Regions from separate parts of the Homo sapiens genome. Here region 1 is linked to region 2. The links come from fine-mapping of genetic effects on gene expression. A gene starts in region 2. The other region holds a variant in brackets. All regions are shown on one strand. Distances are from middle to middle.

What was found. PIP is the estimated chance that this variant, and not a neighbour inherited with it, causes the effect.
Region 1: its variant is fine-mapped to the expression of CEP57L1 in whole blood (TOPMed, PIP above 0.99). The same link has a PIP of 0.9 or more in monocytes.

What each region holds. Positions count from the first base shown.
Region 1 is chr6:109,169,297-109,186,017 of GRCh38, forward strand. CEP57L1 (centrosomal protein 57 like 1) reads left to right here. Exons shown (of 11, transcript NM_001271852.3): 11 at 1-5,122. It also overlaps the pseudogene CCDC162P. Among named protein-coding and RNA genes, the nearest start is that of CEP57L1, 82 kb to the left of the region's middle. The variant CAGAA/C (reference allele first, on the strand shown) is at 8,706.
Region 2 is chr6:109,087,036-109,103,756 of GRCh38, forward strand. CEP57L1 (centrosomal protein 57 like 1) reads left to right here and starts at 8,472. Exons shown (of 11, transcript NM_001271852.3): 1 at 8,472-8,540. It overlaps SESN1 (sestrin 1), which reads right to left and starts at 7,811. Exons shown (of 10, transcript NM_014454.3): 1 at 6,760-7,811. The coding sequence starts at 7,038. RefSeq lists enhancers at 7,179-7,328, 8,199-8,458 and silencers at 7,439-8,138, 14,423-14,814.

The DNA of each region.
Region 1 (16,721 bases), 82 kb after region 2:
TTGTGAGTACGGGTTGTCATTTTTAATGTAGCCCTAAATGTTTTTTAGGGAAGAAAAAGTTGGCTTTTAATAAGTATTCAGTGAGAATGAATTTGAAGGGTGTGGAGAAAAGTGGAATAGCCAATTTAAAATAGGAATACTCCCAAGTCCCCTGTTATGGATGTGCCAATCTATTGTTTATCCCAGAAATATTGTTTCATGTGTTTTACAGATAACAAGTCTCATTTTAATCAATACTGTTGCATTTCCTGGTCTATAGAATACAATTTTCAAACACTAGCCAACTTACCTTAGAGAAATACTGGTTTTCTAATGTGGGCAAATAAATACATTCAGTATGAATCCCTTAACAAAATGACCTCATTATGCTACCTCTTGGTAAAATCTAACCAAGCATGAGTCTTATGATTAAGAAAGAAATTTGCTCTGTAGGTGCTTCAGACAGTTTTACAACCAATAAGAATGTGAGATTTGTCGGAGAAAAACTATCTGCATGTCTCCAATCTGAAGAGAGCAAAGATCTGTTATTTGACAAACCCTATTTTTCCGAGCATCAACAGTCAGTGGCACCATGAAAATTAAAAACCTGATAATACCACCAATGTAGTACTCTTTAAAAACATGTCATCTTACTCAGCAATCAACCTGATTGAATATTTTAAAATGAATAAGTGGATAAATATCTTACCTGAAAGATAGCTTCATTAAATAAACTAACTCCTGAGAGGATTTCTTTGGCCTTTAATATCCTATTTAATAGATTTCTTATAACCATATCAGCAAAGCCACTCTGCTCTGGACAATGGTCAGAAGGTAGGAAGAAGTGTTATAGGGTAATGAGCAATAATAAGGCCACCAAATATAATCCCATTGTAATGGGATTCTACCCACTTGTAGAAGTTTATTCACCACTACAAATTACTAAAGTTAACCTAAACAATTAAAGAAAGAAATCTTAGTCTTTAAGAACAGAGGATTGTAAAGTGAGCCAGACCTTCCAATCAGCTAAAATAATGTAAAATAATGTACTTTTCAACCTGACTTGGCTTAATGTAGTTAAGTAAATTTTAGGATAGGTTCTAAAAAACCTTGAGAGGCATTTTGTTGTTGTTGTTGTTGTTGTTAGTTTGCCTTAAAGTTAAATGTACATTGACCTTTGGTATTTCTTAGAAAAACCTGTTACTGAACCTAGTACAGAATGTGAATCATTTCATGCCTGAAATACAAGATTGATGTTTACAGGGCAATTGTCCAGAATCTTGCTGAATTGGAAAGTATTTCACTCTTCATCACTGTAGATCCGTTTAACTTTACAAATGTGTTATTTAAAACATAAACCATTTTGGTGCACAGGAAACCCACTTAAAATTAAATTTTAAAAAGCTCTCGAGAAGTCTGTGGAACATTTATGGTTTTATAACTTACAATTTCTAGCAAAAGTATCTTTAATATCTTACAAAATATTTTCAGAGATAGCTTATCCAAAATATGTAATACATGTGAGAGAATAGCACTGTTGAAATGCTTGAACACATAAAAAGCATTATTGCCTTCATTTTCCCTGAAATGAACCAAGCTACCAATTTAAAGCTGGGAAAGTCAGTACCAGAGTTAAAAACAAGTTACTTTAAAGATATCTGCTTTTACTTTAATCTAAAAAATAATTGATTTTTTAAAAAACTTATTCTATTTTATGTATATAACTTCTCCTTTATAAGCTTAGAAAAATTTATATCAGTATTACATTCTTGATTCTCTCAAGGTATGATTTAAATGGTGGACACTTAAGCCAAAATTTCAAACAGGTTCTTTTTTCTTTGTTCTTTTACAGAATGGCTCTCAAGTCGAAAGAGGGCTGTGCCTTTGGTGTTTGGGTATGATATATTTGCCTGTGATTTCTCATTCTCAGAGCATTCCCATAAATAATGCCACAAAGTAGAGTTTGATTTTTTTTTTTTTGAGACGGAGTTTCGCTCTTGTTGCCCAAGCTGGAGTGCAATGGCGCGATCTCAGCTCACTGCAACCTCCGCCTCCCAGGTTCAAGCGATTCTTCTGCCTCAGCCTCCCAAGTAGCTGGGATTACAGGCATGCGTCACCACACCCGGCTGTTTTTTTTTTTCGCATTTTTAATAGAAACGGGGTTTCACCGTGTTAGCCAGGCTGGTCTCGAACTCCTGACCTTAGGTGAACTGCCCGCCTCAGCCTCCCAAAGTGCTGGGATTACAGGTGTGAGCCACCGCGCCCTGCCTAGAGTTTGATTCTCTTAAACCGTTCTACTAAAATACTATCAGTTTAAACTACCATCTACAGAAATAAAAAACATAAACCACTAAAAGATTAAAGCATTTAGGAGTTTATATGCAAAGAAGTCTTGCAAGGGAGTACAAGCTTTAGGAGGACAGGCTTATCAAATTAAAAAATGAAAAAACCTACAAAATTACCAAAGTCACCAAGTTTAGTTATTCTTTTCATGGTGGAAAACAGTTTCCTCAGATAATCATCATATCAGAGGTCATCATGTATCCTTAGATATCAGCATTGCCAAGACCAGGGATATAGTTATTAGTAATTTACAGGAAAGGCTCAAGGTTTCATTTACATGGGAAATGAGAACTAGACAGTGTGGTGACTGTTTTTGTTGTTAACCTTACCTCAGTGTTTTATCTCGGGTGGTCCCCAAGACCACCTTCAGGATCAGTGATTCACTGGAGGGACTCACAGAACTCAGAAAAGCTGTTAAGTTATGGTTATGGTATATTATAGCAAAAGAATATATATTAAAATCAGCAGCTGAAAAAAGGCACATAGGGCAAAGTCTGGGGGACACCAGGCACAAGCTTCCAGTTGTCCTTCACCTGTGAAGTCATGTAGACAGACCATAATTCTCTCAGCAGACAGACCATAATTCTCTCAGCAACAATGTGTGACAACATTCTTGGAGAATTGCTAACCAGGGAAGCTCCACCAAGCCTTGGTGTCCAGATTTTTTCTTGAGGGTTGGTCACGTAGGCATAGCATGACTGATAGCCCATGTGGCTGACCTTCAGTTTTCAGCCCCTCCAAAGATGGAGCTGATACTACATGGCCTAAGGACTTCACCATTAATCACATTGTTAGCTTAGACTACCTGGTATGGCCTAAGGCCCCCAAGTAAATTAAAACATTCATATCAGGCAGGATAGTCCAAGGACTTAGAGGTTATCTTGAATCTGGACACAGGACAAACATTTCTTTGGAATGTGAAAAGTTTACACAATCAAGACTTGCTATGTTGATCCTTTACTGCGGTATTGTTTTTTGTTTTCTGACCCAAAAGTGATGTGCATTGCTTACCTATCATGGCCTCTGGTTAAGGTGTCAGTCTTGCCTCCAAATTTCCTCCTAAAGCATGGAATTGGCCATAAATTTGCTTAGTGATTTTCTGATTTAGTATCATTAGTTTGATGACTAGTTTTATTATGTGAGTGTGATAAAAGGTTACGCTTAGTATACAAAGACCTTCTTATAAGTCTAGTTAATAAAACTAGGGCCATGTGTTACTACAACATAGGAGTTAACTTTGTCTGGAGGCTTTTTCAAGCCCAAGAGGTTGTCATTTCTTTATGTGTAAGATACTGCCCACATACTATACTGAAGTCAGGAACCAAGAACCGGTCAATTTACCTCAGCCAAGTTGCTTGGACTGCTTTGCTTAATAATGGGTTTGCCATATCTACTTTAATGAGATGTGTGGCATGGTGATGGTTACAAAAGTGATTTGTTAATTATTGCCTGGTAGGAAGGAGAACATGTTTTTTTTGAACCTATGCAAATAGCCACATGTCTGTGAAAAGTAAAGGGATACTTTTGTGTAATATTTAACCATGTATACCATTGTTTGTGTACTTTTTAATTGTGTCATTTTCTACAGTATTATTTTTGCATTTTCCTGACACTGTATTACTTACAAGTTATATTAATAATTTTTATTAATTTTTTTCCTGAATCCTAAAAGGTCAGTTGGAACATGAGACCATTTAAAGAATATTATTTCCTTCCAGTTTATTCAAGGGTGGCCTATTGAGAGTTTGAGATAAAGAAGAAAGGAATCTTTCCTTTCCTTCCCCCTCAGCCCGCCCCCTACCTTTCTTTTTTTTTTTTTTTTCTTTTCAGGGTCTTGTTCTGTCACCCAGGCTGGAGTGGAGTGAATGCAATCAAAGCTCACTGCAACCTCAAACTCTTGGGCTTAAGCAGTCCTCCTGCCTCTGCCTCCCAAGTAGCTGGGACTACAGGTGCATGCCACCACACCTGGCTAATTAAAAAAAAAAAAAAATTTTTTTTTTTGAGGAGACGCGGTCTCACTTTGCTGCCCAGGCTGGTCTCAAACTCTGGGCTCAAGCAATCCTTCCACCTCAGCCTCCCAAAGCTCTGGGATTACAGGCATGAGCCACTGTGCCCGGCAGAATTTTTCTGTGTCCATTAGAAATAGAAATCAGTCACATGCTATGATTTCAATATGTCACTCAAAAGCCATGTGTTGGGGCTGAACGTAGTGGCTCACGCCTATAATCCCAGCACTTTGGGAGGCAAAGGAAGGTGGATCACTTGAGGTCAGGAGTTTGAGACCAGCCTCCAACATGGTGAAACCCCGTCTCTACTAAAAAAAAAAAAAAAATTAGCTGGGTGTGGTGGCATGCACCTGTAGTCTCAGCTACTCATCAGGCTGAGGCAGGAGAATCGCTTGAACCCAGGAGACAGAGGGTGCAGTGAGCCGAGATCATGCCATTGCACTCCAGCCTGAGCCATAGAGTGAGTCTTGGTCTCAAAAAAAAAAAAAAACCTTGTGTTGGAAACCATCTCCAATGAAGCAGTGTTAGGAGATAGGGCCTAATGGATATAAATTACAGTGTCTAAGATGGATACTTTACTCTTTTCTTTTGAGAAGGGAGAGAGTATGTTATGCACTGAGAACTTTTCAGATTTCTTGCAGAGGTCATAATGTTCCAGACAAGCTGGCAGCAATCATTCCCATCCCATCACAGATCCAGGCTTATTTGTAGAATGGTTACACAAACCAAGCAAAACCTTCTGTAAAGTTTCTACCCTTTGCTCTAAAGTTACATAAAAACAATTTCCAAGTTTGTTCACTGTGTATATTTTGTTCTTTTTCATGGTAGATTTGTCTGTTGGAGTTAGATATCCCTAAATAGTGTGTTCAAATGATGTTTTTTTCTGACTGTTCAATCTCCAGCATATTTCTGAGGGAGAAAGGACATTGACTTTGGAGAAAGAAAGCTGTGTAATTACAAATGGACTATTACAAAGAACTATGCCTTCCTTTTTGAGGAGAAAAAAGATGGTTTTTAAAAATTAATACGCAGGCTGGGCGTGGTAGCTCACGCCTGTAATCCAAGTCCTTTGGGAGGCTGAGGTGGGAGGATGGCTTGAGCTCAGGAGTTTGAGACCAGCTTTGGCAACATAGTGAGACCTCATCTCTACAAAAAAAATTTAAAAATTAGCCAGGCATAGTGATGCATGCCTGTAGTTTCAGCTACTTGGGAGGCTGAGATGGGAGGATTGCTTGAGCCCCAGAGATGGAGGCCGTGTGAACCATGATCATGCCACTGCACTCCAACCTGGGAGACAGAGCAAGACCCTATCTCAAAAAATAATAGCAATACACAGAACTACCAGCCTTAGTTTATAACATTAGCCACAGATGGATCAAATGTAATAAAAGTACAAAAAGCGTGAGTCATTGGTTAATGGTAGCAGCTCCAGATCTCCAAGGGCTTCTCTGCATTCCAGTGGCCACAAAAATATTTTTCTTAATTGATTTGAACTCATAGTGGCACAAAAAAATGAAAAACAAGTTTCGTCAATGGTCAGAAGATGAGAAAGAAAGTAAATCAGTGATGTAGGGAGTAATATGAGCAACTTTCCAACCTACTAATGCAACCTATCAATTTGACCAAACTCATGTCTTAAGACCCAGATGCAAAGAAAAGATGTATCTTAGATGACAGAAGATAACAGAATCCTCAAGACAAAAACAAAGTACAATCAGATGTCCTGTCATTGTTGCCTCACAAAGAACGGATCGACCATTAAAATGTGTATTTTCAACATTGCTGCCACCAAAGGAGAAATAAGTGGCTGTTTACAAATCAGAACCAGTGTCAAACGCAGACTTGGCCAGGAAGCAAAAAACATATGAAGAGCCAGAAAAAGAACTTGAATCAACTAGATGAAGACTTTATTGCCTCAAGACTGGAAAATGTATACCTCGAACAGCCCTTGAGTTGCTCTTCATGGACAATGTGGTGGACTTTACCCTGGTTGATGCATACACAAAATCTTAGAGGAATCTACACAATTGTCAAAGAAATATAGACAAAGGATTTAGGGGGGAAAGTTTACTTTCAAGGAAAGTTTGCAAGCAACTCCCAAGTTTTAAAAGAACTGGCTCATCAAATAAAAAAATACAAAAAAAAAAAAAGGAAAACCCACAAAATTACCAGTATTACCAAGTTTGTAGTTGTCCAATCATGGTAGAAAAGACAGCGATTTTCTCACATGATTGTCATAGCCACAAAGATCATCACAGATTTTCATCTATTATCATTGCAAAAGTTGGCAATAAAATTGCTTTTATTAAAGGAATTAGTAAATTATAAACAAAACTTAAGGATTATTTTATTTTGGGAAAATGAATGACAGTGACCCTGTTTTTGTTTGCTTATTTCTCTCAGGGTGCAAGATATTTTCTGACTACAATGTACATGTTGATAATGCTCTGATAACAGCAGAGCAGTGTGTACATTTTGCTTTCACACATGCTTCTTTTGATCTTTGGTAATTTTTTAAAAAAATGCTTCCATGAACAGATAATGAGGTGGTTTATTATTATTTGAGGTAAAAGAGACAATAATATGGAGCGGTGGGAGCCAAAGTTTAAGAAAGTTTCTTTGGGGCCGGTCGTAGTGGCTTATGCCTGTAATCCCAGCACTTTGGGAGGCTGAGGCTGGCGGAACATGAGGTCAGGAGTTTAAGACCAGCCTGACCAACATGGTGAAACCCCGTCTCTACTAAAAATACAAAAATTAGCTGGACGTGGTGGTGTGCGCCTGTAATCCTAGCTACTCAAGAGGCTGAGGCAGAAGAATCGCTTGAACCCAGGAGGCAGAGGTTGCAGTGAGCCAAGATTACACCAAAGTGCTGGGATTACAGGCATGAGCCACTGTGCCTGGCTACTTTGGGTAAGATTTAGTAAAGGCCACATCATGAAAACAGTTAAGTTACAGTCATATGTTGAAAGACATTGGAAGGTTATAGAAGCAACAAAGACTAGAAGAACCAAAATTCCAGAAATGAAAGAGCCTTCCTAGGTGAGTTGACAGTCCCTGGCTATTTGCTTCCTTAGCCAATCTACCAATTCTAGTCACAGTGACAGTTTTGGCATAAGAACCCAAATGCGACAAACAGAAGCCAGGGAGACTTTTGAAGGCCATGGCTGCAGGAATGGCAGAGTTGAATCTAATGTCTGAAATATACCCATTGGATATTTGCTGAATGCCAAGGTGTGAAGGAGTCTGGGGGGCTGGTCTAGAAAGGCAAAGTAAAATCTGCAGTCTTGCCATGCTTAAAAGATAAACCCTGCTAGAAGGAGGAACTGCGTCAAATATACGACAGTTCTCTCCCTCAAATTTTTGCCAGATTTTGAACTTTCATGGGGTGGGAAACTAAGTTCGAACCTTTGAAGGACAGAATTTCAGAGATGAGGAAAAAGAGAAATGTCAATCTATCAATCAAAAGGCTCAGAAGGCACACCTAAGAAGGAAGTTGGAAAGGCAGGTAAAATCTGAGATTAGCTTAGGAGACAACACCCCACAGGAGAGAGGAAGCCAGCACAAAACACTTGGCCAGTTTTCCTCTCTAGACGTTTGCCAGATTTTGAAGCTGCAGGAGGTTAAAGAGCTAAACTAAAACCTCTAAAAGGGTAGAAATCTTCGGTTAAAAAAAAAAAAACACTAGCCAAAGAATAAAAACCTTACAATGGGCCGGGTGTGGTGGCTCATGCCTGTAATCCCAGAACTTTGGGAGGCTGAGGCAGGTGGATCACCTGAGGTCAGGAGTTTGAGACCAGCCTGACCAACATGGAAAAACCCCATCTCTACTAAAAATAAAAAATTAGCCAGGCATGGTGGCGCATGCCTGTAATCCCAGCTATTCGGGAGGCTGAGGCAGGAGAATCACTAGAACCCAGGAGGTGGAGGTTGCAGTGAGCCGAGATCGTGCCACTGCACTCCAGCCTGGGCAACAAGAGCAAAACTCGGTCTCAAAAAATAAAATTAAAAATTAAATATATATATATATATATATATATATATATATATATATAACTAATGTGTTGAGGACAAAATGGGGAAATAGGTAAATTCACTGTAATAAGATTTTAATATACCTAGCTCATATATCCTTTAAAAAATCAGTGATTACATCAATGGATATAAAAGATTTGAACAACATGACTAGCCAATATGATCTAATTGGCGTATATAAAACACTATTCCCAACATCAGAATACACATTTTTTCAAGTATACATGAAACATTTACCAAAATAACCATATGTTGGGTTATAAAGCAAGCTTGACATATTTTTAAAAATTGAAGTCATACGGAATATGTTCTCAGGCCACAGTGGAATCATACTAGAAACCATAA[CAGAA/C]AGAACCAGTTTTAAATAACTCTTATGTCAAAGAAGAAATCATAATAGAAATTAGAAAATATTTAAAATATAGTGAAAACACAACATTAAAAACTTCTGTGATGTAGCTAGAATAGTGCTTAGAGGGAAATTTATAATATTAAATACATTACACGAGAGGTTAAAAATTATTTATCTAAACATCCATCTCAAGAGCTGGAAAAAGAAAAGCAAATTAAACTCAAGATAGTAAAAGCAATGATCTACTAAGTTAGGTGAGCAGAAATCAGTAAAAGAAAAGGCAGACATGAATAACCTAGAGAAAACTCAGTAATACTGGTTCTTTGAAAAAAATTAGTAAAATTGATAAATCTCTAATAAGACTGATCAAGATAAAAGCAAGTACAAGCTGGGCGCGGTAGCTCATGCTTGTAATCTCAGCACTTTGGGATGCCAAGGCAGGCGGATCACCTGAGGTCAGGAGTTCGAGACCAGCTTGGCCAACATGGTGAAACCCTGTCTCTAATAAAGATACAAAAATTAGCCAGGTGAAGTGGCACCTGCCTGTAATCCCAGCTACTCAGGAGACTGAGGCAGAAGAATCACTTGAACATGGGGGGCGGAGGTTGCAGTGAGCTGAGATTGTGCCACTGCACTCCAGCCTCGGCAACAGAGCAAGACTTCATCTCAAAAAAAAAAAAAAAAAAAAAAAAAAAAAGACAAGTACAGAAATTACCAATATCAGGAATATAAAAGGAGACAGCACTACACATTTTATAAATATTAAAAAGATAAGAAGTTTAAAAGGACAACATCAAGAAAGTGAAAGGATGACCCACAGAATGGAAGAAAATATTTGCAAATTGTACATCTGATAAGGGACATGTATCTAGAATATATAAGAACTCTTACAACTCATCAATAAAATACAAATAATCCAATTAAAAATAGGCAAAGGATCTGAATGGACATTTCTCCAAAGAAGACATACAAATGGCCAATAAGCATGTGAAAAGATGATTGACGTCATTAGCCACTGGGAAATGCAAATTAAAACCACAATAAGATACCACTTCACACCAACTAGTATGGCTTAAATTAAAAAGACAGATAGTAACAAGTGTTAGCAAGGCTGTGGAGAAATTGAAACTCTCATACATGGCTGATTGGAATGTAAAATGGTACAACCACTTTGGAAAAGTCTGGCAGTTTCTCAAAGGTCAAACATATTTACCCTGTAATTCCACTCCTACACATATACTCAAGGGAAATGAAAACAGATGTGCACAAAACCTTGTATATGAATGTTCATAGCAATATTATGTATAATTGCCCCCAAATTGAAACAACCCAGATGTCCATCAGTTGATGAACAAATAAAATGTAGTATAGTTGTTCAATGGAATATTATTCAGCCATTGAAAATGAATGAAGTGCTGATACATGCTACAACAAGGATGAGCCTTGAAAACATGCTAAGTAAAAGAAGCCAGTCACAAAGGACTACATATTGTATGGTTCTGTTGATATGAAATGTTCATATAAATCTGTAGAGACAAATCTGTAGAGAGAAAGTCAATTAGTGGTTGCTTATTGTTAGGAAGAAGAGGTAGCTTAGAGAAAAATGAGGAGTGGCTGGTAATGGCAATAGGGTTTCTTTTTAGGGTAATGAAATGTTCTAAAATCGATTGTGGTAATGATTGCACAACTCTGAATATACTAAATAAAAATCATTGATTGTGCATTTCATGTGAGTTAATCAGATGTTGTGTTAATTATATCTCAACAAAGCTGTTAAAAAGTATGATACTATGAAAAACCTCACATCCCCCCAAAATTCATCTACTTAGATGAAATGTGCTTATATATCCAAATGTTCTTTTAAAAGTCTTAATAAAATGAACACAAAAATAAATAGAAAATTGAATAGCTATATATCTGTTTAAAAAATTGAATCTGTAATTGAAGTCCTCCCATACAGAAAACTTCAGTTTACTATATTTCAGAGGTGATTTATTCCAAGTATTTAAGGAAGGATATAGCAATTATAAACATTCTTCAGAAAATAGAGAACACTTCACAACATGTCTTATGAGGCCAGCATAATGTTGATACCAAAATTTCACAAAAACATTATAAGAAAAATGACAGGCCAATGTCTCTCATGAACATAAATGCAAACATTCTGAAAAACATAGTAGAAAATTGAATACATTTTTCTATAAAAAAGATAACAAATTATGACCAAATGGAGTTTATTCTAAAAACACAATTTTGGATTAACTTTTGAAAATCTGTGAAATTAACCACATTAACAAATAGATGAGGGAGATCACATGATTAATAGATGCAGAAAAAGCATTTGACATAATTCACCCTTTCAAGAAAAAAGTAAAATAAGCCTCTCAGCAAACTAGAAGTAGAAGCAGGTTATTCAACTCAGACTATCAAATATATTTATCTCATGTCCCCTATGTTCTATAGACACAATGAAGGGAAAACACTAATGTGTTTATCTGAACAATGCCTAGGGGATGATGAAGCAGACTTGGAAGGAACCCGGGCCGTTGAGTGCCCATTTAGTAGTGGGGCTGCTCTACAACCCCAGACCATTTACATTAGCACCATTAGGTTAGAGAGATTTAAAAGATCTTTTTTCTTTGATTGATTGATTGATTGATTGATTGGAGACAGAGCCTCACTCTGTCACCCAAACTGGAGTAGAGTGGTGCTCACTGCAACCTCAGCCTCCTGGGTTCAAGCCATTCTGCCTCAGCCTCCTAAGTAGCTGGGATCACAGGTGTATGCCACCATGCCTGGCTAGTTTTTGTATTTTTAGTAGAGGTGGGGTTTCACCATGTTGGCCAGGCTGGTCTCGAACTCCTGGCCTCAAGTGATCCACCCACCTCAGCCTCCCAAAGTGCTGGGATTATAGGCATGAGTTTGTTCTTTTAGCCACTGGTGATGGTGTCTTTTTGTTACAATGGCTTAGCCACACCCCTACTAATGCAGAAGCTGGCATGTAATGTATTTCATTTGAAAGCATAGATGATTTGAAAGCATTTGATGATCAAGATGACTACGTATCAAAAATGTTTACCCAACAAGGTTACAGAGTATCTATCTGTGCAGATCAATAAAGAGAATTGGATTAGCCCACAGTGATATGGGACCAGTATGCTTATCAGTTTAAATTCTGGCATTTGCTAGAATAAAAATAATTGTTTTATTTTGGTACATATCACATTATCAAGTTTTGGGAGCCTTTAAAACACTTGAAGCTGTGCTGATTTATGTATTTTGATGAGCTTAACTATTTACATTTATTATAATTACTGTTACATTTGAACTTAATTCTGCCATACTTCTTTTTGTTCCCCCCCACCACCACTTTTCTTACCTTCTATTGCAGGGGTCCCCAGTCCCCAGGCCATGGACCAGTACTCATCAGTGGCCTGTTAGGAACTGGGCCACACAGCAGGAGGTGAGCACAGGCAAGCAAGCATTACCACCTGAGCTTCCTCTGGTCAGATCAGTAGCAGCATTTGGAGTCTCATAGGAGCATGAACCCTATTGTGAATGGTTCATGTGAGGGATCTAGGTTGCGTGCTCCTTGTGAGAATCTAGCTAATGCTTGATGATCTGAGGTGGAGCAGTTTCATCCTGAAACCATCCCTCTGCCTGGCCACCTGCTGCTTCCCATCCATGGAAAAATTGTCTTCCATGAAACCAATCCCTGTTGCCAAAAAGGTTGGGGACCACCGTTTATTGGATTTAAAAGTCCTATCTCACCCCTTACTCCCACTTCTTTGGGAAGCTCTAGGATACATTTCTTTTTTTTTTTTTAATAGGTACGGATATTTTTATTTTATTTTTATTTTTTCCTATTTTTTATTATACTTTAAGTTCTAGGGTACATGTGCACAACGTGCAGGTTTGTTACATATGTATACATGTGCCATGTTGGTGTGCTGCACCCATTAGCTCATCATTTACATTAGGTATATCTCCTAATGCTATCCCTCCCCACTCCCCTCATCCTATGACAGGCCCTGGTGTGTGAAGTTCCCCACCCTGTGTCCAAGTGTTCTCATTGTTCAATTCCCACCTACGAGTGAGAACATGCAGTGTTTGGTTTTCTGTCCTTGCGATAGTTTGCTCAGAATGACGGTTTCTAGCTTCATCCATGTCCCTACAAATGACATGAACTCATCTAGATGCATTTCTATTCTTTTACTCATCACCTTGAAACTTTTAAAATAGTTACTCAGTATTTCTTTTCTAAACGTGTCTGCTTTATCCCCATCCAAGCCTGCTGTAACCACACATTGAACACCCCCAAACCTTGCTCAAGCTGATCTTACTATTTTTGTCTTAAATTTTAACCACGTTTTAAATGCATAAAAATTATGTATTATACATAATTATGAATTACAAATAATTAAATGTACTTATTTTTAAAAACATGATTGAAGAAATTCTCTTTTCTCGCAATCTCTTTTCTAAGACTAAATGAGTTCCCAGTGCTTGCCTGACACACGGTAGGTTCTCAATAAATGAAGCACACCTCCCATACCCCTCCAAATAAACAGTTGTCTCTTTAAACCTAGACATGAGTGCTCAGCAGGCATGTATTTCTCTGGGTTGGATTCATTTCATGGACAGTTGTCAAAGACTGACCCCTTTATGTTAATTTTCTGAATACTGTGCTTGACTGTGTTGCAAGCTAAACAGTACAGGATTAAATGTTCTCATTTCTGAGCTGTGAAGTGTTGAAACTGATCAAGAAATGAAGGCAGAATGTCCGTCCTTTGGGAGAATAATCAGCCAGTCTATGTTGCTGCCACTCTTGGCTGCCGATTGGAATGCAGCTGTTAAGGCAGCTGTTTAACTGTTTGCCCAACTTGAAAGGACACTGCCAAATGGCAAATATTTTCTATAACAACATTTTACTTTTGCTAAGAACAATAACAGTGCATTTTATTGAGCTCCAATGGCGTGCCAAACACGACAGATTTATTACTAGGCAGGTTCACAACCTGGACTGAACATGGATGCTCATTTCCATTTTTCATATATTTAGAAAAAGAATAAATGGGCTCCCAAAGGAAGCCTCTACACAAAACATCTCTACAGCTTAATTATTTGTTGAAATGACAGCATATTAACTTGAGAAAATGAAATATCTCAAAAGGAAAGATGAGAGTCTAGAAATATCACAGGAAAAAAATAAGGTTTAAGTATTTTAAATCTCTCTAATGTGGCCTAAGAGAGACTTAACTCATACTTGTCCAGGACAGGTGAGGGCAGCAGTAACACAAGGAAATACATCATCTGTTGAATCCCCTGCAACTTATGGGTCCCAGGACTTCTGAGTCATGCAGTTAATCTACATTGTTAATTAGAATGTTGATACTAAGTACTTAACAAACAATTATGTTGAATTTGACAGACTGTGAACCAGGTGAGGTGGGGTGGGAGGTTATCAGCTGTTATTTAATGGTAAAACCGGTATGCTAAATGTAGGCAGTCAAAATTAAGAAAACACATTCAAATGCGGAAGTACAATTTTCTATTAGAAGTCAGCAATAACTGCCATTCACAGAAGTTACTGTGTAATCCCCACAAACATTTATCAAGACTGCAGAGGTGAGGGGTGGTGGGGGGTGCATTCTCACTTATTAAACCCCACAGCCAAAGCTGAAGCAGAGATGTTTTTGAAGGTGAACTGGGCTAATCAAAGGCATGGCCAGTGGAGATTCTAACCTACTTTTTCTCTACTGTTTACTAGATGTTAATTAAATCACAAATGACAACAGTCTAATAGCAAAATGCATGCATTTCTACAAAGTTGACATGATTTCTTGGACAAAGATAGACAAAGTTCAACATGCTGGATAATGGTCACTGAGGGCATCAAGATTTGTGATCCTCTTTTTCAGGGATACAGAAAAACAGCAAATACAAATCATGGATGAAATTTATAAGATCACTTCCACAGAAAGGGTCCAGCTGTTGGAGAAAAAACTGGCTGTGCAACTGACTGAACTGAAGTCTGAGATAGAAGAGCAGGGAGCTCTTCAGGGAACAGCTAATCGAGTTTACAGGTAAATAGTGGCACTGAGAAGGTGTGATCTTCAGGGGCTTTACTCCCCACTCTCACTCCGTAATCTACATCAGCACCCTCTCTTCTTTTTACATAGACAATTGGCATTATCTCCAGTTCAGATAAATAGTATATAATAGCAGTTTCAGGTACCCATTTCTAACCTGATTGCTACCTCTAAGATTTTTCTATATTCTAGATTTGTTAAGACAGATCCAAGCAAAAGTCTTACCAAGGAAAATGTAAGTGTTTTTACATGTTAATTAATGCTATTGTCTTGAAGTTACAGGAGCTATAATACAAATCATACTCAATGAAAGGAGATCTCATTTTACCCAATAATATTTTAATTGAATTTGACTTTGATGTTGGTGAGAAATTTAAAAGCTGAAATAATGGTAGGCACTTAGTAATACATTATGCAAAACAATGTTCTGTGAGTGTTATCAGCACTCTGGATTCTTGCTGTCTCCCAGGATAGAAATCAAGAGAGATCACCAAACAGAGCAGCAGCAAAGGTAAGTGTATTCAGGTTGTGCACAAGGGAGCCAGCACCAAGAAAGGAAAAGGAAAGAGATGCTCTCCAAGGGTAGTGTGTGCGTTAGTTTTATAGCATCCTTTGATAGAGAAGGGTTACATCAGGGCACATATGGCGGGGTGCGGGGGGTGTGGTTTCTAGTGCTCATACAGTGGCTCAACATGCTTCTTCATACATCAAATGTAGCATTAGCATTTTAAATCTCCACCCAAGGCATTATTCTTAGCACAAAAATGAGGAAGGGGTAACTATAGGTTGAGTTTTAGTTCTAACTGCACCTGTGGGGCTTTGTGGAAGTCTCTATCCCCCCAAAGTAGGAACTTGCTGTTAATAACTCCTTGGGTCTTTTGTTACTGATTTGCTGAGAGTTAGGTAAGCTAGGGCTTGAGTAGGGGCTTCTGTTCTCCTCTAGAGCAGATCACAACAGGAAGCCAGCCAGCCTGTTTCATTAGGAGCTCTTCTATAGGTAAGTGCTGCCAACAACAGCAATCAAGTTATTGTAGAGAAACAAGAGACACAGATCAGCCCCTAATGGCAAGTCTCATGGACCCAGGACCTTCATATCCCTGTTTCTGATACTGCCACAACTGATCAAAAGGAGCAATATAAGAACCCTGTTAGGTTGAATCATTGAGAAAACACAATGTGGATGGTGAGAGGTTTGGAGAGGTCAGAAGATGCAGTAAGCAGGTGAATTAGTACTTCATTCCAAAGACAATTCTGAAGAACCAGCATTTCATATGTTTTTTAATTAGTATTTAAAACCATTAGGTGTCTGAAGCAAATCAGATTGTGTGATGAGATGGAAAGATCATGGAACCATGCAAGTCATAATTTCTCTCAATTTTGGTTTCTTTATTTGAAAAATGAGGTTAGTACCTTGCCTACCTACATAAGGTTGTGAGGATAATGAAATAATGCATGTTAAAGTATTTTTAAGACTAGAAAACACAATGCAAAGATGGAGTGTTGATATTATTATGATTTAAATGTCAGAATGTCAGGCAAGTGACTCCCCAGTGTACACTGGGATAAGAAAGGCTTTCTGATGTCTCTTAGAATCGAGTGATGGGAAATCCTGGATAGCCTTATTTGTCTACTCCCCCAAATCACCCAACACTGCACCTAACAAATACTTCTTGAGCACCTTCTGTTTTCCAGGTGCTGTGCTAGGTTCTAGAGTCCAAGGAACATGGAAATATCCACTCCTGATAATCACTTTAACATTCTCATTCCACTAGATTGAAAAATCTATTGAGGCTTGGAGAAGAACTGTGTGTCTTAAACATTTCCGCCCCCCCCCCCCCGTTTTTTTTGCATCCTTTCCCTTGTTTTACTCCACAAACCCAAGACTTTGCAGTGGTTAAGTGTTTCATAAATTCTTGCTGA
Region 2 (16,721 bases):
GCAGGAGAATTGCTTGACCCGGGAGGCAGAGGTTGCAGTGAGCCAAGATCGTGCCACTGCACTACAGCCTGGGCGACAGAGCAAGACAGCATCTCAAAATAAATAAATAAACAAAAATAAATAAAATAAAATAGACGAAATCTGAACACATAAAGAGTACTGTTGTTAATTTTGATCTTTCTGAAGAGTCAAAACATAGGACAGGATGTATTTATATATTATAAAGAAGACACTGAGTATAGATAGTACAGATATGATTCCTCCTGTAAGTCAGAAAGTGAAAAAAAATTGGCTGTCTTCAAACAATTTAGAAAAAAAAAGTTAAAGATTTGCCTTCAGTTTCTTCACATTCTTTATCCAAAGAAGGACAGAAAACCTGAGAATAAAGAATATTCTCTGAGCCTCAAAAGCAAGGAAGGAAAGTGGTCAAAGACACGAATGAGAGGAGGCAATGAGAAGTAAGCCACAAGGCTTTCTGAGGGAAAGGGACCGAGTTCACAACGTATCAATAAAATAAGAAAGGCCAGAAAATAGTGGTATGGAAGAGAGAAGCTTAGTGTAAATATTGAAAGAGGACTCTCATATTTGCTGTGATATCTAAGAGTCAGCAGTGAATGTTTGACATGCACTACCTTAGACTTTTGGCTCCACTAAATGGCAGTTAAAAAAAAATCAAAACAAAACAATCATTTAAAAAGACCAAATCTGCTTCTAGAATGTCTCCAATCTGTTATATTTTATAGCCCCACTAAAAATGAATTAAGTATGCTTCTAATCTAATCGGATCCAAATTATAAATAGACCAAGTGATATATTATCTAGTTAGATACACATGCAGTTTTAATGGAAGCCTCTAATTAGGCCTGACTGCCTTCTGTACTGCTTCTCCTCATCGAGAAATTTTCTGTTCAAGTGATGGGGGGGCAGGGGGCGGGTCTCCTGGTCCTTAGGGGCTGAATGCTGATTAGTCCAAACCAAAAATAGAAATGCCCAATTTCTTCATCAATGACTGGCTTAGAAAAGGGCATGTGACCCAATCCCAGTCAATAGAAACTGAGAGGAAGTCTGCTAGAGGGTTTCTGGGAAAGGTTTTCTTCCCCGAGAGAGAGACGTGGGAAGAAACTCTTTTCTTCTTAGCTGCAGATAGTCATGTCTGCACATGGTGCCTGGAATAGCATGCTGTAGGAATGGAGACATCATTTGCTATGCTGAGGAAGGAGAACAAAAAAAAGAAAGCAGACAAGTAATGTAGTTGAGCCAATGAATCAATCAAGCTTGGAACTGCCAACCTCCAGACTTATTATGTGAAATAATAAACTTATTGTTACATTTTCAATCTATTTATTACTCAATTGGATAGCAACTAGATACTGCAACTCCAACTGTAACTCTAACAGCTATAAATGTGCATCCTACCCAGCAACGAAAGTTTCATTTCTCCTGGAGGTGGGGGGGTAATAATCACTTTACTAAATGAAAGCCTCCACCACCCCACTTACCAAAGATAAGTATTTTGTTGCTTATTCTAAATTTTCTATCTTAAGCCAATTTACTTTCAGACAATATTGATTGCTGGCAAACTTATGAAAATGACCAAATGACCATTCTTGGAAAAGTACTTGGCTATTCTGGATAGGCCTCAAAATCTTTTGATACATATGTGCTCTCATATTTTCCTCCTTAATTACATGTATCATCAAGACTATAGTTCACCAGTAGACTATATTAGGAAAGTGGGCCAGTATTAATACTCCCATTCCTTTGTTTAGAGAATCAAGAGTATCAAAAGGTGTAATTCTTCTTTTTAAAGTTTCTTTAAAAACCCAGTATAAAGCCTTGGATGAGAATAGAAAACCTTCTTCAAAAGCAGGAAACAAGTCTTACTGATCTTCAAGTCCTAAGTACAGTGACTGCCTGGCCCAGAATATTTCTCAAAAATGTGAATATATTTAAACATGCTGATGTGGAATCAATAAATTGAGAACTGGGGTATAAACAAAAGATGCTATCTCCCAATGTGTCCATTTTTTTTTTTTTTAACAGATTTAGCTGCTTGGAATTGAATTCATTCTACCACCTTGTCATCGTTTCTCCCTTGCCAACTACAGCCCTTTTAGCTGACCTATAGCAATTAAGGGCTTTCAGGAGCAGCTGCAGAAATTGCATATGCACCACAGCTTTTGCTGCTTTACTAATGAATAACAGAAAGCATTATGGAGTGCTACATTTGAATTAATATTTGCTTTCTCATGTGAGGCTGATGCTAAAATGGTAGGCAGTGAAGCTGGAGAGGTAAGTGAAAGCCAGATAATGCTGGGTACTATATGACATTAAGAAGTTTAAATTCAATTCTATTCTAAAGGGCTTTTGCCAGTAAAGTTACATAGATTTTCATTTTAGATAAATGGCTCTACAGCTATGTGGAGGATAGATATAAAAGTGGAGGGTGAGTTTAATCTGGAGAAGAAGACATAGCAGTGACAGAACTAGAACAGCGGTATCGGGGGCAGAAATTCATTTAGGAGCTATTTCTACTTGGATGTCTCATAGGCAACTTAAACTCAACATGTCTAAAACAGCAGTCATTTTTCCCCTAAATTGACCCCCTGCCACTCTTTTGTCTCAGAAAACAATTGCACAATTCACCAAGTACCTCAAGCCAAAAACTTTAGAGCCATGCTTAATTTTGTTATTTTCCTCATCTTCTAAATCCAACTAAATACTATATCCTGTGGTTTCTAACTCCTTGATATCTATCAGACCCATTTTAATTTTTTCCACTCCCTCCTGCCCTACCTCACATCCTAGTCCACTATCACTTTTGTCATAGGCTAGTAGGACAACCTCCTAATTGATGTCACACATCCACTTTTGACCATGGAAATCCATTCTCTAGAGTGATCCTTCTGACACACTATCAATCACTATACTACCTTGCTCAAAATCCCCCAGTGGCTTCCATTATTTCTATGATAAAGTCCACAACCCTTAAATAGCCTATAAGCCCCTCTGGGATCTGGTTTCTGCCTAGTAATAGCAGGCATACCTAACATTAACTGAGCATTTCTTTTATGCTAGGCACTGTGCTATGCTTTGCAAACATCATTTATTTTATTCTCACAGCAACATTGTGAGGCAGGAACCATAAGCATAATGCTCATTTTGCAGATGAGGAAACTGAATCAAGGAGAGATTATGTAACTTATTCAAAGTTGTAGAGTTAATAAAGTACAGTCCCATACTGCGTAACATTTCAGCTGATGATGGACCCCCATATGCAACAGTGGCCTCATAAGATTACACACTTGACCCTTGAACAACAAGGGGGTTAGGGGGCCAACCCTCCACACAGTTGAAAATCTGTGTTTAACTTGTGACTCCCTCCAAACTTAGCCAACAATAGCCTACTGTTGACTGGAAACCTTACTGATAATATAAACAGTCAATTAACACATATTTTGTATGTTATACATATTATATACTGTATTCTTACAATAAAATAAGCTAGAGAAAAGAAAATGTTATTAAGAAAATCATAATGAAGAGATCATATATTTACCATTCATTAAGTGGACGTGGATAATCATGAAGATCTTCATTCTTACGGTCTTCACTTTGAGTACACTGAGGAGGAGGATCAAGAGGAGGGGTTGGTCTTGCTATCTCAGGGGTGATAGAGGTGGAATAGGCGGAAGGAGAGGCAGAAGAGGCAGGCATACTCAAGTGTAACTTTTGTTTGTTTGTTTGTTTGAAACAGGGTTTTGCTCTGTCGCCAGAGGGCTGGAGGACAATGAGACAATCACAGCTCACTGCAACCTCGAACTCTTGGGCTCAAGCGATCCTCCTGCCTTAGCCTCCTGAATAGCTGGTACTACAGGTGTGCTCCACTGCACCCAGCTAATTTTTTTTTCTTGACTTTTTGTAGAGATGGGTCTTGCTATGTTGTTCAGGCTGGTCTCCAACTCCTGACCTCAGGAGATCTTTCCACCTCAGCCTTCCAAAGTGCTGGGATTACAGGTGTGAGCCACCCCGCCCAACTTAGTATAACTTCTATTGAAAAAATAATCTTCCTATAAGTGGACTCATGCAGTTCAAACCTATGCTGTTCAAGGGTCAATTGTAATTCTATATTATTACTCTACCTTTTCTATGTTTAGATACACAAATACTTACCATTGCATTACAATTGCCAAAGCGTATTCAGTACAGTGACACGCTGTACGGGTTTGTAGCCTAGAAACAACAGGCTATATAACACATAGCCTAGGTGTGTAGTATCTAGGTTTGTGTGATTTCACCCTATGATGTTCAAACAAATATGATACCACCTAACGATGCATTTCTCAGAGTGTATCACCATCATTAAGTGACACATGACAGTATCGCAGCCAGGTCTGCCAAACTCCAGAGTATGTCCTCTTAAGCTATTCACGCCACCCTCAAACTGTCTGCCCCAGCCATATTGCATTACTTTCAGCTCCTAGAACTCATCTGCTCTCCTTGGCATGAGGCCTTCATACATACCGTTCCCTATGTCCGGAATGTCCCCTCACAAATCTCACCTTTACATGGGTAATATTTATTCATTTATCATGTCTCTGCTTAAATGTCATTGCCTCAGGAAAGCTTTCCCTTACTATCTAAAATTAAATTTTATATTTGTTTACTTCTTTATGGTCTGTTTCCCTTTGGTATGATGTCAAAATTGTTACCACTGGTCCTCAGTTCTCAGAATGACATTCAGCAGGAGTTCAATAAACATTTGTTGCATAACTGCAAGCATAAATGAATGATGCTGGGGTGGAAACTCCCTAAACTGAAAACTTCATCTATTCAGACTACTGATGAAAAACAGAAAGAAAGTATAAATTTGTTCATCCACTGGATATTTATTTAGTAGCTTCCAGGTCCCAGCCAGTACTCTTAAGAACTCATAGCCTTCCTATGGGAGACAGACACAAAAGCATGTGCTTATAACACAATATAAGTAAATTGCCTTTTATAATTGTACAATAGATGCAGAGATGGAAAAAAAGAGTATAAGTCTATAGGGAACCTTCCCAGGAAATTCCTGAGTCCTTTTGCAGGATGAAAGAGTCTTGAAATATATATTGCATAGTCTATGTATTTCACTTATGAAAGGGAGAGGAGCATCTACTATATATACCAGAGTACTTTACATCTGATTTAATTCCCACAAGAGCTCTGTGTTGTTATTCCCATTTTACAGATGTGGAAATCCAAGCTAAGAAAGGTCAAGGAATTTGCCCAAGGTTACAGGCAAGGACATTAGTAAAGGAGTGGAATTTGAGCCCAACTCTGACTCCAGTACCCACTTATTTATCATTATATTGAAATCCTTTGATACTATGCTCCCCAGAGCCTGCTTACTTTTATTTTCAATATAACTCTTAACACGATTGGTTATCTGGTTTCCCATTCTAATATGAATTAAGCAGCAAAATGAAAGATCAGGAAGAGACCAAAGTCAAGTATCCTGACGGCAAAGGAAAGAACAGAAAAACTATAAAAATTACACACAAAAATACAAAAACTAATGGATCATATAGTCAGTCCTCCACCCTTTGCTGCACAACAATAGTTGATATGCATAATGATGACCCCATTATGGACAAAAATGGTTGTTACAGTCACTACAGTCTAGAAGATAGAGAAATAACTTTTTGTGTTTCAAAGGGTAAACTTCAGTTACCTAGTATATTAATTCCTCTCGGGTAACTCTGAATTGTAACAATTGTTTCCAAAGTGTTAGTGAGAAGAAATATCCCAAGATCTTAAATAGAGTCTTCATTTTGTGGATATTATTTTTCTGTTGCTTTAAACTAAATTCAAGCCAGTATATAAAAACTGTCACTTTTAACTTACATAGTTACCCAAGTACATTTTAAATTTTAAAAATCTCTCATACAGGACTTTGGACAACACACGTGGATTGAGAAATGTAAAGATTGACAAGCATATATAAGGTGTTGCTGAATATTGTCAATATCTAAAAACTTAAAAAAAAGTATTCTAAGACACCTTGTAATAAAACAGGATAAATTATGAACGAAATGGAGGAAAAACTATAATATTTTTAACCTGCTGCACTCGTATCTTAAATAGCTACACATGTGAAAAAGAAACAATTCAGGCAAACACAGAGAAAGCTAGTTGAGCAATTTGCCATAAAAGTGTTTCTATCAAATACCCCACCTGGGTCCACCTTTTCAACATGAAGATATTAGCTTCTTTTAAGATAGGTTTTTATTATTTTATATAATTCTCTTCTTGAAAAAAGAGAGGTTGCATTTAGAGAACACATCCTGGTTTGTTTTGTTTTTAAAAATAAGAGAAAATTGTTCCACCAATTATCTTGAACAGGCTGACTAGGAAACATTTAATATCCTTTATCATTTTAGAGGCTTTTAAATGTGAGCCTTTACACTCAGAACACTGTGACAATGTGAAAAAAAAACACTGGCTACATTTTCCAACAACATGTAAAAAGAAATATAAGGAAAAACAAGTATTTACTTGGAATTAACTGTAGTTTTCATATATTCTTCCAGGAGCAAAGCAGTTTCTGCCTAAAACTCTAGAAAAACACTACTTGTTTACTTACAGAACACTCTAAAGATGTAAACTCATAATAAAAGTTTACATAACAACCTAATAGAAACAAACACAACGTGAATAACGGCAAGTAAAATTTAACTGTAGTAGAGACATAGTTGTATTTAAAATGCTCTTCCTTACCTGGATGCTCTTCAGAATAAACTCACTTTTCTCTCTCACATCTTTGAAGGGACACCTCTTAGAAAGCATAAGCAGATGAGCAAGTAGCTTATTCAACCCATCCGAAGACTCGGTATTTGAAAGCCCGTCTGATGGACGATGAGGTGTTTCTTTCACCGAACGAAGATACTCGGTTTTCCTCAAAATGGTTTGCCTAATGTTTTCCAATGCTGTCTCCCTAGTAGTTGAATCTCTGCTGCAGAGTCCATCCCATCTCACTTCATTCTCTCCTTCAGCCATGACAATAGTTTTTCCTTTGCGGTCTTCAGTTACCTTTCAGCATGCCCCAAAAAAATTGCTTTGTATTTTTAAAATGAAAAATGTAAAAATAAAATCAGAGAAATCAAATCGTCATGAAAACACACATCTGGGTGACATTTGGAACCACTGGTGCCTTCAGCCGATCTACAAGCTAGGTCACCCTCTCACCCTCTCCTTGTACACGAAAGGGCAGTCTTCTTTCTGGAAAAACAAAGTTTGAAAGTTGCAACCTTGCAGCGCTGGCTTTGGTGGGCAGAGAATTTCGGGGAAGCGTTCTCCTCCGTCTCGCGGGGTCAGTGGATATCCTCACGTTGTGGAGCTGTCAAATCCGTGCTCTGCCCCAAAAGGCTGTTAACAGCTGAACGCCCTCCAGCCATTCGGGGCTTTTTTGTCTGTGCAGCCACCGGGTTCTCTCCGGCGTTCCCACCCCGCCCCTTCTCCGACACCAGTCCCCGCCCTCCGCAGCTCCTCCCAGCGCCTCAGCAGCCGGCCGGCGCCGGCAGGGAAGGCTCGCCGAACCCTGGCCCACTGGCCGCAGCGGCCGGAGGCTTGGGCGCTGTCGGAGGGCGGCAGTCTCGGGCAGCCGTAGTCTCGGCGGGCGGCGGTGAAAAAAAGCGTCCCCCAGCCCCGCCAATTCGGCACCCCCGGGAAGACGCTACTTCTCCGATCCCTGAGCCCTCGCCCACCACCGCCGAGCCAGAGGGCACAGGGCGGCCCTGGCAATCCTCGAGCGCCAGGCTGGGCCGCGGAGCTGGCGGGGCGGCGGGGCCCGAGGCGCAAAGCCCGCCCTTCGCCCAGCCCCATCGGTGGGGATCAGCCCAGAGGGCGGGAGCAGGGAGTGGAGACGGGGTCCTCACCCCCAGCCCCTCCCCTTTCTCCGCCCGGCACAAACCGGGAGCCGCCCCGGCCCCAGCGCCTTCTTCCCCGCCCAGGCAGACGCGACCCGCCGAGGCAAAGCCTTAGGAAAAAGCCCCGCCCTCTGGCAGGCTACCCTCCGGACCCCAAGTGCGCCGCGCGCGGCTGCCAGCCACTGCCGGCTGCTACGCATGCGTGACTGCGAACTGGGCCAAGCGCCCCCGGAGGCGCTAAGCTTGCGCCCTGAGGCGGTTTCCGTTCCCGGACGTTTGGACTCTGTCCTGGAGAAGGGGAAGGAAAAAGTAAGACGTAGAAGTACACTGAGACTTCGTCACACATAAAACAAGCACGACAAAGAAAGAGGGCGCGAAGGGACTCCTGGAAGAAATTGAGTCTACATTTAAGATCACCCTAAAAGTAGTGACGGCCTCTTCATTACTCCAAACCCCAGATTTAAGTCGGTAGGACGTCTTCGCGTTGACTTGTGGGGAATGTAGTTTCGATGCTGCCGGCGCGTTTTGTTTGCGACAGAAACTACAACCCCCAGGGGCCACCGCGACGTTGCCTGTGGGTGCCCGCGAACCAACGGTTAGCGGTGGCAGGGGCTGACTGAGAGCGTCTGCTTGGTAAGCACTGTAAGCTGGGTTGTCACCTTTCCTTGACAGGGTTTTTCCTTCCTCCATTTCCTCTGGGATTTTGGAGACAAAGCCATCTAGGGTGGCCTCCCTTAGTCCAAGGACTTTTTCCAGTGACTTGCGTGGGAAGGACTAGTCCAGCTGCCCAAGCGCGGGGTGTGGTGGGTGAGGCAAGGATTTGGGATCCTGATCCCAAGGGTCGCAGGGAGCGGCCTAAGTAAGGCCAAGAAGGAAGGATGCTGTGGAAACTGGAGCTTCGCGCTGCTGCCTCTGATTCCGCCCTTTTTTGTGGACACACGCGGGGTGGATTTGGGATCTCCGCGCATTTGCACCTTTGTTTGCCTTTGCTTAGGGATGTTCTGGGCTTTATTTGCTCAGTCAAATGAAATCCTAGGCAGGGCTTTGAAAGCAAGTTGTCAAATCCATCTCGTAAAAGAATCCCCAGTATTCCTAGATAGGAATTCTTGCAGGCTTTAAGGATACAGCAGGAAAAAGAAAGCAAAACCGTAAAAGTCTCCAAAACTTAGTCGACTTTTTCAAAAGATTCAGTCATTTGCTTAAAATTAGTTTGCTTTTAAAAAGTTATTATTTGAGAAAAGTCGAGGTTTGAACGGCCATCAGTGGACTGATAATCGGTGTAGATTTTAATTCTTTACATTGCAGAATTGCATTGCACTAAATTCTAAAAATTTCGTCTTGCTAGGCACTGAGTATACAACAATGAAAAAGACAGTCTTACTAGTTAGAGGAACTAGTTGTTAGACATACGGTTACAATAATACATGATATCACTGGGATGTCTAGAAGGAGATGACTTAGCCCAATCTTGGAAAGTCAGGGAAATCTTCATCCCAGGGGAAATGAAGACCAAAAGAACAGCATATGCTAAGGCCCAGAGTGAGAGATAGGGTACTTTCAGGAAACGTCAGTAAGCCAAATCATGCATACTTGGCGGTGTGGGGTGGGACGGGAAGGGTGCTTTTTGTGTATTGATGCACTTAGAAGCTACAAAGAGACAGGTATTGTGAATTCTTTACATCGTTTCTGTAAGTGAGCTATTTTTGAATAGATGCATAGTTCTGATGAATTGGTCTAATTTCAAAAGCCTTGTTACATTCTGACACTTCTAGTTTGAATCTGAATTTTAAAAAGGGAATAACTTATGAGTGTGATTGAAAAAGCAAAACAAAAACCATTCCGTTTTCATCTCCTTTTTGGGATCTTCATTCTCTATCCAGCCCATAAAGGGTCGGGTAGTTTCTTAAGGCTGGGTGCCTTTTTATGCCGTAGTTAAATATGATCTCATGTATACCCATGGCTTCACCAACACCTATGACTCTCAAATGAATAGCTCCATTCAGCTTCACCTCTCAGCTTTCACAATATCTCTTGGATATTTCTTCTTGGATATCTCAAAAGCATCTCAAACTCAACATACCTAAAACCAAATGCATAGTTATCTCTTATGAATCTAATTCTTTTTCAGTGTTCCTTATTTCAGCAAAGGACACTACTATCCATCTACTTGTGAAAATTTGAAAGCTAAACATTATTCTTTATTTCTTCTTGCCCTTCATACTTCTATGGCCAAATTATTATGAAGTTCTGCCAACCTTATCTCTCAAAATATCCTTCAAATATATTTTTCTCTCCACCTGTCTTCAAACTGCGATAATCTCTCAAGACCACTACAGTAGCAATTATTCACAATGACCCTCCTCCATTAGTTCTCCATTATATCTGCCAGAATGATTTTTTGAAACTGCAGATTTGATCAGATTTTCTCTTGGTTAAAACTATTCAGTGGTGTCCTACTACTGTTAAAGACAAAACTCCTTTATAAAGCCTGACATCATCTGGTACTCTTTCAGACTAACTTCATATATTGCCCTCCAGATCAGCCATACAGTCCATTTTTCAGTCATTGGTTCTCATATTCCATTTCACCCACGCGTTTACTCAACAAATCTCTGTTGAGTCCCTTTTATATAACAGGACATTGAAGATACAGCATTGACCACAATATATAAAAATTCCTACTGTCATAGAGCTTGCATTCTACTGAGGAGAGATAATAAATAAATATGTAAAACACTTAGTAAATGAAATGAAGACAAATGCAGTGGAGAATAAAACAACTGGGAAGGGGAATGGGGAGTGCCAGGATGTGAGGGGCAAGGTTCACTTTTAAATAAGGTTGTTAGAAAAGACATAATCCAGAAGGGGACAATTGAGATATGAAGTAGGGGAGGGAATAAACCATGTAGATGCCTGGGCAAATAACATTCTAATGAAGAGAATTAGTGCAAAGGCCTTGGGCAGAAGCCTGAGTGCGCATTTGAGAAATAGCAAGAAGGCTAGTGTGGCTGGAGCACAATGAGTACAAAGAGGAGAATAACATGAGGTCACAGAGAAAGGAAGTAATGGTAGGAGAACATGTAGGTGACTGAAAGGACTAACATTTTTAATTGGGTTGGGAAAGCATTGGAGAGTTTTGCGCAGATGAGGGCATGATCTGACTTTTAAAAAATGACTACTTTTCTCTCTCTCTCTTTCTCTCTCTCTCTCTCTCCCTCTGTCTCAACGGAGTTTTGCTCTTGTTGCCCAGGCTGGAGTGCAATAGCACAATCTTGGCTCACTGCAACCTCCACCTCCCAAGTTTAAGTGATTCTTCGTCCTCGGCCTCCCAAGTAGCTGGGATTACAGGCATGCACCACCATACCTGGCTAATTTTGTGTTTTTAGTAGAGACAGGGTTTCACCATGTTGGTCAGGCTGGTCTTGAATTCCTAACCTCAAGTGATCCACCCACCTCAGCCTTGCAAAGTGCTGGATTACAGGTGTGAGCCACCGTGCCCGGCCTCTTTCTTTTTTCCTGAGACAGAATCTGACTATGTCACCCAGGCTGGAGTATAGTCATAGCTCACTGCATCCTTGAACTCCTGGGCTCAAGTAATCCTCCCACCTCAGTCTCCCAGGTAGTTGGGACTACAGGCACGTGCCAACAAGCCCAGCTAATTTTGTATTTTTTCCTTTTTTTTTTTAACTGAAATTACATAACTGAGATAATTTTTGTCTTTTTGTAGAGACAGGATCTCACTGTGTTGCCCAGGCTGGTCTTGAACTCCTCAAGTGATTGCCTCAAGTGATCCTCCTGCCTCAGCCTCCCAAAGTGCTGAGATTAGAGGCATAACCCACTGCAACTGGCCTGAAGTGAATATTTCTTTTAAATTGTGTTGAGCATAGACCATAGGGAAGCAAGGGTGGAAGCAGAGAGACTGGTTAGGAAACTAAAGTAATAATCCAGGTGACAGAATCTGGATACATTTTGATAGTATAGCCAACAGACTTTGCTGACAGATTGTGTGAGAGTAAGAGTCAAAAATGGCTTCAAAGTTTCTAACCTGAGTAACTAGAATGGAGGAAGTGCCATTTACTATTATGGGAAAATCTGCAGATTTGTGAATGGGAGAGAGAGGAAAGGTTGGTATTTTAGCTTGGCCACGTTAAGTTTGAGATGCCTCTAAGAAATTCACATTGAGATGTGGAGGTGGAGGAGGCAGTTGAATAAATGAGTCCAGAAGTGAGGAGAAAGATCTGGCAATAGATATAATTTTGGATTTTATAGTAGTGTTTTGATAGGAGTTGTTGATATCACCAAAAGTGATATTCTATGGAGTTTGGGTGGATTTGGAGTTCTCTGCAAAGGTGACTGAAGGAGCAGCCAGTGAGCAGAGAAAAACCCACTGTTCAGTAGGTGTTCTAGAAGCAAAATGAAGAAAGTAATTAAGGAGGAAGGAAAAATAAGTTATGTTAAATGTTGCTGTAGGTCAAATGAGATGAGGATTCATAATTGACCAGTACATTTAGCAACATGGAGGTCATTGGGATCTTGATAAGAAACTTTTGGTGGAGTAAAGGGTACAAAAGCCAGATGGGTACTTTTATTTATTTATTTATTTTTATTTATTTATTTATTTTTGAGAAGGAGTTTTTGCTCTTGTTGCCCAGGCTGGAGTGCAGTGGCGCTATCTCGGCTTATTGCAAGCTCCGCCTCCCAGGTTCAAGTGATTCTCCTGCCTCAGCCTCCTGAGTAGCTGGGACTACAGACACCCGCCACCATGCCCGGCTAATTTTTGTATTTTTAGTAGAGACAGGGTTTCACCATGTTGGGCAGGATGGTCTCGATCTCCTGACCTCGTGATCCACCCGCCTCGGCCTCCCAAAGTGCTGGGATTACAGGCGTGAGCCACCGTGCCCAACAATGGGTACTTTTATTTAGTAGAGTATGGGAGACAGCGAGTATGGATGCAGCACTCTTTTACTGTGTTCTTTGTCCAGATTGTTCTAGCCTGTCTTTAACTCCTCTTCTTGCAGGTCTTTGCTCAAATAATCATTTTCTCAGAGGTGTCCCTGATCTAATTAAATACTCTTCTTGTAAATAGACCTATTGCACCGTAAACCTTGAGTTGCTCTTATGTTACCAATTAGTTTTGCAGTTGTGCCATGATTTGATTAAAGTGTGTTTATTTCAGTAGAGCTTAAGCACACAAGAGGAACTACTGTGCTTGTTTTTGTTGATCATCTTATCTCTACCTCTGAGTACAGTGCCTGGTACCTAGTACAAACTTAATAAATGTGTGACGCAAGAATAAAGGAATGAATGAATGGAAGAATGATATAATGCCACAGAACTTTCAAAGGTATGGCATATTTATCTATCATTTACAAAAACACAAAGTAATTAATGGATGGACGAGGGTACATTATAATAAAAACATTTTAGAAAGTTCGTCCTAAAAAAAACAAAGCCGGGCACAGTGGCTTATGCCTATAATCCTAGCACTTTGGGAGGCTGAGGTGGGCCGATCACTTGAGGTCAGGAGTTTGAGACCAGCTCGGCCAAGATGGTGAAACCCCGTCTCTACTGAAAATACAAAAATTAGCCAGGCGTGGTGGTGGGCGCCTGTAATTCCAGCTACTTGGGAGGCTGAGGCAGGAGAATCGCTTGAACCCAGGAGGCAGAGGTTGCAGTGAGCTGAGATCGTTCCATTGCACTCTAGCCTGAGTGACAGAGTGAGATTGTCTCAAAAAAAAAAAAAAAAAAAAGAAGAAAGAAAGAAAGTTTACAGAATCTGTAGCCTAGGAAATGTAATTACTGGTCACATAAAATTTTATTTAATGTGATACAGTTTCACATTGTTTAATTCAGAGTTCTTATATTCATAATGTCTGCTTTTTGGCTGGGCATGGTGGCTCACACCTGTAATCCCAGCACTTTGGGAGGCTGAGGCAGGTGGATCACCTGAGGTCAGAAGTTCGAGACCATCCTGGCCAACATGGTGAAAGTCCATCTCTACTAAAAGTACAAAAATTAGCCAGGCATCATGGCACACGCCTCTAGTCCCAACTACTCAGGAGGCTGAGGCAGGAGAATCGCCTGAGCCTGGGAGGCAGAGGTTGCAGTGAGCCAAGATCGCACCACTGCACTCCAGTCTGGGCGACAGAGTATGACTCTGTCTTAGGAAAAAAACAAAACAAAACAGTCTGCCTTTTTTGCTGCAACATATCAATAGATGTTATGGAATTTAGAAGAACTTCTTTAGATCAGTAAATTTTCACAGTTACATTTTAGAAGAGTAATTAATTAGGGAACAGATATTGAGAGGTTTTGCTAACTTTGGTCATGGACCATGGAATCATGCAGTATGTTGCCTTTTAGACTGGCTCCTTTACTTAGCAATGTGCATTTATAGTTATTTTATGTCTTTATATGTATGGCTTGGGAGCTCATTTGTTTTTATCACTGAAAAATAATCCATTGTATGGATATATCACAGTTTGCTTATTCACCTTTTGAAGGACATCTTAGTTGCTTCCAGTTTTTATCAATTATGAATAAAGTGTCCTAAAAATTTATGTGCAGGCTTTTTCTGGGCAAAAAATTTTTAACTCATCTAGGAATATGATTGCTGGATCTCAGGTAACCCTATGTTTAGCTTTGTAAGAAACTCACAGCTGTTTTTCTTTTTCTTTTTTCTTTTTTTTTTTTTTTGAGACGGAGTCTCACTCTTTCGCACAGGCTGGACTGCAGTGGCGCCATCTCGGCTCACTGCAAACTCCGCTGCCGGGTTCACGCCATTCTCCTGCCTCAGCCTCCTGAGTAGCTGGGATTACAGGCGCCCGCCACCGCGCCCGGCTAATGTTTTGTATTTTTAGTAGAGACGGGGTTTCACCGTGTTAGCCAAGATGGTCTCGATCTCCTGATCTCGTGATCCGCCCGCCTCGGCCTCCCAAAGTGCTGGGATTATAGGCGTGAGCCACCGCGCCCAGCCATACAGCTGTTTTTCAAAGCAGCAGTACCATTTTCTATTTCCCACCAATGAATGAGAGTTCCTGTTGCGCCCCACCTTTGCCAGGATTTGGTGGTATCAGTGTTTTGGACTTTAGCTGTTCTAATAGGTATGTAATGGTATCTCATTATTGTTTTAATTGGTGATTCCCCAATGACATATGTTGAGCATCTTTTCATACGCCTATTTGCTGCCTGTGTATCATGTTTGGTGAGGTGTCTTTTCAGATCTTTTGTCCATTTTTAAATTATTATTACTGTTGAGTGTTTTTGTTTTTTAGAGGCAGGGTCTCCCTAGGTCACCCAGGTTGGAGTGCAGTGTTGCTTTCATAGATCACTGTAACCTCAAACCCCTTGGCTCAAGCAGTCCTGCCTCAGCCTCCGAAGTAGCTAGAACTACAGGCATGCACCTCCACGCTCAGCTTACTATTGAGTTTTAAGAGTGCTTTGTATATTTTGGACACACAAGTCCTATATCAGACCTGCATTTTGTAAATATTTTCTCCAAGTCTGTGGCTTGTCTGTTCATTCTTTAATAGTGTCTTTTGCAAAGCAGAAATTTTTAATTTTAGTGAAGTCCAGCTTTCATGTATCATGCTTTTCGTGTTGTAGCTAAAAAGTCATTGCCATACCCAGGGTCATGTAGATTTTCTCCTGTCTTCCAGAACTTTTACAGCTTTGTGTTTTGCATATAGGTTTATGATCCATTTTTTAGTTTTTTTTTTGTAAAAGGTATAAGGTCTGTGCCTAGATTTATGTTTTTATTAAAAAGTTTCTGCTGGATCTGAAATTATTATTTTGATCAATAATATTAAAAGGTGAAAAACTTTTTTTTAAAGACCATTATACTGAATCTGTACAACTATATTGGTGCCATTCTTCAAAACTGTTCCTTGAGAGAGAGACCTGAAGTCAGCCTAAAGATGAGGCCAGGGAGAACTTTATCTGGAATGTATCAGGAAACCGGACTAACAGTTCCATTTTAGTTATCTGTTGTCAGCATGTGCAGTTGGCTGAGTGCTGTAAGTGAAAATTGTTAGGAAGACTTTCTACAATTAAGAATATTATTCTCCAATTGAATTACCTTGTTACTTGTCTACATTGCTGGTTTTTGTTTTTGTTTTTTTGCTACTTTTTTGCCTAGTCTTACAAGGTTGCAAAAATCAACCTGTGATTTTTCCACAATAGTTTGACCCTTCTCTACAATGAAACACTGAAGCCATGTAAACTTAAAATATCTCTTTCTATGATAACTGACTTCAACTTAAGTTTTTAAAGGAAATTATACTAATTATTTACTGTATAGTAGCATAAGCAGTTTTGCCTCTAAATGCTTCCTTAGTTTTTCTTTTGGCTTGTTGAAAAATGTCTTGTCAACCAAGTACTATATGTGTACTTTTATGTGTGGGGTATATGTGTATTGCCCAAATGAATCATAAAGGCTCTTAATTTGAATCTGTATATTTTATTTTTAAGTTTTCCTTAACAAGGTCGATTTGAATTCCTTAACAAGATTGATTTGAATGATATTCTTTTCAGCCCTTCAAAAACATATTTTCTGAAACACTGTCATACATACTATTCTCAGAATACCATGCCCCTTTTTTCTATGTTATTTTGGTTCCATCTTTCAGGAATAAATGAGTAAACCACTTAAATCAAGTTTACTCTTCAGTATTTTCTCCAGTTTTTCTGTTTTTGGTGTCTCCAAATTTACTATAGTATGCTTTGAATGACTAAATCTCTAGTATTTCTGACATATATTAATGGATAGATTTTTAAAAACCAATAATTGTTGAATCTATTTTCATTTTGCTCTTC